Regions from separate parts of the Homo sapiens genome. Here region 1 is linked to region 2. Evidence: fine-mapped expression QTL. A gene starts in region 2. The other region holds a variant in brackets. All regions are shown on one strand. Distances are between the middles of the regions.

Region 1 (2,914 bases), 75 kb before region 2:
AACCTTTTTTTCCTCCAGCCTGGCCTCCCACTTCTGTCAATGGTGTCATCATAATTCCAGTTCCTCAGGCTCACGGTGGTTGCCTCCTCTTTCTCCTTTGATCCCCATAAATATTCCAAGAACTGTCCATTGCTCCTGTGGCACTTACACCGTCTGGCTTTCTTCATTCCCACTTTTCAGACCTTATGGCCTCATGCCTAGAACACCACAGTGGCCTCCCGCTTTTAGCCTGTCTCAATGGACCCTTTGGATTCAAGGGCCCTGCTTTTATGCTCTCACTTTCCACCTACTTATGTACTATTCAAAAACCTTCTTTGGATCCCTTCTGCTTACCAAGATAGTCTCCACTCCCTAGTTTAGAATTTAGGGCCCTCCACAAGTTCTCTCCCCTACCACTCCTCCACATGAATTTTGTGCTCCAGCCTACCACCAGGTCTAACACCTTCGCAAACCTGCCTGGTGCGTTCTTCTCTCTATGTCTTCGCTCAGTTCCCCCATCCTCTGTATTACTAATATGAATCTTAATCATCCTTCAAGACCAGTTCCTCATTTGCATCTCCCCAAGAAGTCTTTTGTAACATTCCCAGCCCACAGTAGCCCCCATCCCAAGTTCTCATGACATTTTGTGTCTCTGACACCCATTTGGCACTTATATAACACCATATGTATTTTGCCTGCTTTGCTGCCTAACTTTGAAACAAGCTACATTAACCACTCTGAGCATCAATTTTCTAAAATCTCCAGCACCAACAGTTCATGATTATTCTCCTTTGCATAACAGTACCCTCCATTTGTAGTGCTTTGCAATTTACAAAGCATCACAAACAATCTCACGTGTAACCTCTCCTTTAGTACCCCACCCCAATAACCCTCCAAGAATGGACAGTTCTTGGCATAACCATGGTTTTGCTCAGCACACCCATGCCCAGAAATGTACCACCTCAGTGGTTTCCAAACTTGGGTCGTCTTCAGAATCAAATGAGATTTTTTGAAAAAGATACATTCCTAGGCTTCATCCTCCAGAGATTTTGATTCATTAGGGCTGGGTAGGCCCTGGAATCTCTTCCCTAGATGACTCTTCAACAGGCCTTATAACCCTAAAATTCCATAAGTCATATGGTTTAGAAATAAGAAAACTATGCTTGTTAATACCTGAGTCCTTTTACTAGCAAGAAGATATAACGAAACTTTTTAAATTATTAAACATACAGTCCTAACTGAGCGTTTACTTTCTTAAATTCTGCTAATAGCTATGCTTTGCTGAGAGCTTACTGTGTTTGGGGCCTCTTATATGTATTATTTCACTAATTCCCATTTTATAGAAAACTGGGGCCCAGAAAGGTGAAACAACTTAACAAGCTATTCAGATAATACGTTTTTTCTGTTTTTTGTCTTTGTTTTTGTTTTTTTTGAGACAGGGTCTCGCTCTGTCACCCAGGCTGGAGTGCAGTGGTGTAACCTTGGCTCACTTCAACCTCCATCTCCTGGTTTAAGCGATTCTCCTGCCTCAGCCCCCCAAGTAGCTGGGACTACAGGTGTGCGCAACCATGCCCAGCTAATTTTTTCTTCTTGTTGTTTTTTTGGGGTTTTTTTTTTTTGAGAC[C/T]GAGTCTCACTCCGTTGCCCAGGCTGGAGTGCAGTGGTGCGATCTCAGCTCATTGCAACCTCCACCTCCCGGGTTCAAGCGATTTTCCTGCCTCAGCCTCCCGAGTAGCTGGGACTACAGGCGCGTGGCACCACGCCCAGCTAATTTTTGTATTTTTAGTAGAGATGGGGTTTCACCGTGTTAGCCAGGATGGTCTTGATTTCTTGACCTCGTGCTCTGCCTGCCTCGGCCTCTCAAAATGCTGGGACTACAGGCGTGAGCCACCGCACCTAGCCTAATTTTTGTATTTTTAATAGAGACAGGGTTTCATGATATTGGCCAGGCTGGTCTCAAACTCCTGACCTTAAGTGATCTGCCGGCCTTGGCCTCCCAGAAGTGCTGGGATTATAGGCATGAGCCACCACGCCCGACTTATATTCAGATAACAAGTTTAAGAGCCAGGATTTAAGTCCATCTTGTGTGACTTCCCAATCCATGTTCTATTTAACTGTATTGCCTAAGTGAACATTTTTGTTACCATAAACTTCCATGTACTATAAACATTATGATGTGGAAATGATCCTTTATTTATTTTATTTATTTTTTTGAGACAGAGTCTTGCTCTGTCACCCAGGCTGGAGTGCAGTGGCTCGATTTCAGCTCACGGCAACCTCCGCCTCCCAGGTTCAAATAATCCTCCTGCCTCAGCCTCCCAAGTAGCTGGGATTACAGGCACGTGCCACCATGTCTGGCTAATTTTTGTATTTTTAGTGGAGCCGGGGTTTCACCATGTTGGCCATGCTGGTCTCGACCTCCTGACCTCAGATCCACCCGCCTCAGCCTCCCAAAGTGCTGGGATTATAGGCATGAACCATGCCCAGCCTGGATCATTTATTATATACTTGTATTTCCAACCATGCCCTCACTTAACTACCAAGTACTGCCAGATAAATATCTTGTTCTTTTTATGTTCAAAGATAATACAGCTGTTTTTATGAACTCTAATTTCTACTTAAGGTATAATGAATTTTCTAGATAAAAATAAGGAACAGGCTGCTCTGCCTACGGAGCAGCCATAGTCCTTGACTTTCTTAATAAACTTGCTTTCGCTTAAAAAAATAATAATAATAAGGAACAGAATTAGCAAAATAGTAACCTGTCAAATTCCTGGAACATTTAAGTACCAAGAATTTCAGCTTTTTATCATGAGAAGGCATTTTTAAGAGTCAGACAATTCATTCAGCTCCCTTGGTATTCTAATTCCAAAAGTACAATATCAACATGCAGTAATAAAAATTCTAATTATAGTTTTTCTTATCTTGCGAGACACAA
Region 2 (2,914 bases):
GTATTGTGGGGATTTTCTACTATCTGGTCCCTTCTCACGGCAGACATCACTAATTGATTTCTACTGGTACAGGGTTGTTTAAAAATCCTTTTCTGTATTTAATTTTAGGGAGATAAACCAAAAATGCTGGCAGACACCATGAAATCATCCCACACAGACATTGTAGTCAGGCAACCTTGAGTTCAAATCCTGGTTTCTCTTAATTCTGAGCAAAGTGGATAAATGACTTTACTTCTAAGCCTTGGAGAAAATTATATCCTATCTCACAGGGTTGCAGGGAACATCTATAAAAGTGTCTAGCAGAAAGTAAATACTAAATGTTATTTCCTTTTAATATGGAATATCATACTGACATTTTTCTGTCTTGGTTTTCCCGTCTGTTAAATGGGCATAACAGATGACCTACCTTAGAAATGGTTCTGAGGAGTAAACCAGTTAATACATGTAAAGTGCTTAGTGCCTGACCCAAAATTAACACTCAATAGTAACTTTTATTATTAATACATCATCCTGGTACCTTGGGAAAAGCTAAAAAAGAAAATATTTTTTAGCAATCCTAAAGATTAAAAAAAATACAAAAATTCTGAGTAGCCACAAATGCTGAAGATGTGTATAGAACATATAAATGTCTCTGGCACACATGTCAGTTCATAAATCACTCTGTCATTCGTTTGATCCTCAGAACAATCTTGTAAGGTAGGCCTGGGAGATTCCATTTCCATGTTACTCATGGGGAAAGTGAGGCACAAAAGAGTTCAGTATCAAAGCCACTTTGTTAAATGCTCCTATTTCAAATTACAATCCAGGCTTTCTGGCTCCTAGACCATTTCTAGTGTCTTGCATGGTCCTTCTACCTATTTTTCACTTTCCAGAAAACTAGAGATCATTCCTTCACTATAGTAATTATCTACAGATAGACATAGAATGTGTCTAACAAACACAATAATCTACCAGAGGATTTCTGGAATCTTTTTAACCATGCAATGGCAGTAGACAACTGCCATCAATTTGTATTTATAACGCCAAATGAGAAGCTAGGTTTACTTGGCAAGTATAGATAATGATCTAGTGGCTCTAGAGTTATAAAGTAATCAGGTACGATTGTCACTCTTAAGAGTGACAGGTGCTTCAACATGATTTAAAATACTTCAGAGGTTTGTCTTTATCGTCTCTTGTTTACTGACAGCCCACAAGGCAGGGTGAGAGACCTCAGGGGAGAACAGGAACTTTACAAAGGAAAACAGAAGAATCAGCAAGAAAACCACAACATGCTCCCTGCCTCAGAAAACTCCAAAAACCACCTACTGAGAAGTCAGACTTGGTTTCAATTATCTTCCGAGCCAGGAAGATACAGGTGAGGCTTGTGAACTGAGACCAGGGAACAAGAGTTAAGCTAGGATGACTCTACGGGTGAACGTCCAGGAAGCCATGGATCTACCGCAGTCGTCAGAGCCCAGCGGATCCCTGGCAGAGTTAAATGCTCGTTCTGAACCAAATGTCCGCTTCCGAACCAATCGCTGGTGCTCACTCGCAGCCCCAGTCCCAAGCGTACTCCAGCGCCCAAGGGTCGCCCTGACTGAAAGAAGAGAATCAGGCCTGTAGTCATAGGGTGTAGGGATGCCTCCTAGAAGAGGGGAAAAGATCAAGATGCGGAGAGGCTGGATCCAGCCAGATACGCGACCCAAGGGGCTTGGGACACCCTCACCTCTTCCGCACAGAGCCCTCCCTCTCAGGACAGCGCCAGCCTCCGCCGCCGCTGGACCAGCCCTTCTATTCAGGCTGTGCAGCTTAGAGAAGGGGGCGGAAGGGAATAATCGTAGGGCGGAGAGAAAACACGAATAACGAGACCGCAGGGCATGCTGGAAGTCGTAGTTTCTTCTGCCTCTGCTGTCAGGCGCTGTCCCGACGAACCACAAGGCTTCTTGACTACAGCCCCCAGAAACCCCAAGCACCGTGCTAGGTCATTTCCTCTCCTTTCCGCGAGACCTTCCGCGGTTATCCAGCGAGTCACGTAGCAAGACTACAATTCCCATGAGGCTCAGCAAGGGCGATTTAGGGTCCAGGGAAGCAATGAGACGTGTTCTTTGTTTTCCTATGGGTGAGGAATGGTTGTATGAGCAGTTGGGTTTCGGGACGCTTTTTGGGGAGAACCCGATGGAGTCTGAAGGATCTCTAAATCAGGCGGAACCCACGGTGCGGCGAGTTGGGACGGAAGTAACCGGTGGGAGTGGGGAGGAGCCGGAAGTTAAGGAGGGGAGGGGGTGGAGGGAAAAGCAAGCCAGGAGGTGCTTGCGGCCGCTTCTAGTAGTTTCCAGGCGCTGCCGGGCGGCTGGCACTAAGCGGTCCTGAGGCTGTGGCTACGGCTGCTCCGGAGCTGGTGGCGCCGCGATAGGAGAGCCGATGGCCAAGTGGGGTGAGGGAGACCCACGCTGGATCGTGGAGGAGCGGGCGGACGCCACCAACGTCAACAACTGGCACTGGTGAGGGCCAGAAAAGCAGGCCGGCCTTGGGAGACCTGCGGCCGGGCCAGGGTTTCAGGGTTCCTAGAACCTCGGCCCGGACAGAGCTGGGGCTGAGGTAGCCCTGTCCGGAGATGGGGGTGGGTCCTTCCTGTGGCAGGGGTCCGTAGCCCCAGGCCTCTCCACTCCGCGGTCACCTTCTCAGTGTTTGAGGGGAGGGAGATGGACGTGGAGGGCTGCGCCCCAGAGGAGGGTTGTCAGAGAGACTAGGAGATAACGCCCTGGCTGCTGCATCCAGCCCGAGCAGGGAGGTGCTTATTACACGTGGCCAGAGGAGTCACTGAGACTGGAACCTCCTTTGATTGTGTTGGGAGATAGCTGTGAAAGGCCTAAGGCCAGGGGTCTGTAATTCCTATTTTGCGGCCTGCGGTAAAATTAAAAGTCATTCATAGGGG

The links. PIP is the estimated chance that this variant, and not a neighbour inherited with it, causes the effect. A credible set is the group of variants that fine-mapping cannot tell apart.
Region 1: its variant is the best candidate, but not a certain one, in a credible set for the expression of VIPAS39 in whole blood (TOPMed, PIP 0.82).

The regions. Positions count from the first base shown.
Region 1 is chr14:77,380,545-77,383,458 of GRCh38, forward strand. The region is part of intron 2 of SAMD15 (sterile alpha motif domain containing 15); the gene reads left to right. Among named protein-coding and RNA genes, the nearest start is that of SAMD15, 4.6 kb to the left of the region's middle. RefSeq lists a silencer at 1-131. The variant C/T (reference allele first, on the strand shown) is at 1,604.
Region 2 is chr14:77,455,790-77,458,703 of GRCh38, forward strand. VIPAS39 (VPS33B interacting protein, apical-basolateral polarity regulator, spe-39 homolog) reads right to left here and starts at 1,812. Exons shown (of 20, transcript NM_001193315.2): 1 at 1,706-1,812. It overlaps AHSA1 (activator of HSP90 ATPase activity 1), which reads left to right and starts at 2,304. Exons shown (of 9, transcript NM_012111.3): 1 at 2,304-2,480. The coding sequence starts at 2,401. RefSeq lists enhancers at 1,610-2,132, 1,751-2,210, 2,133-2,655, 2,381-2,560.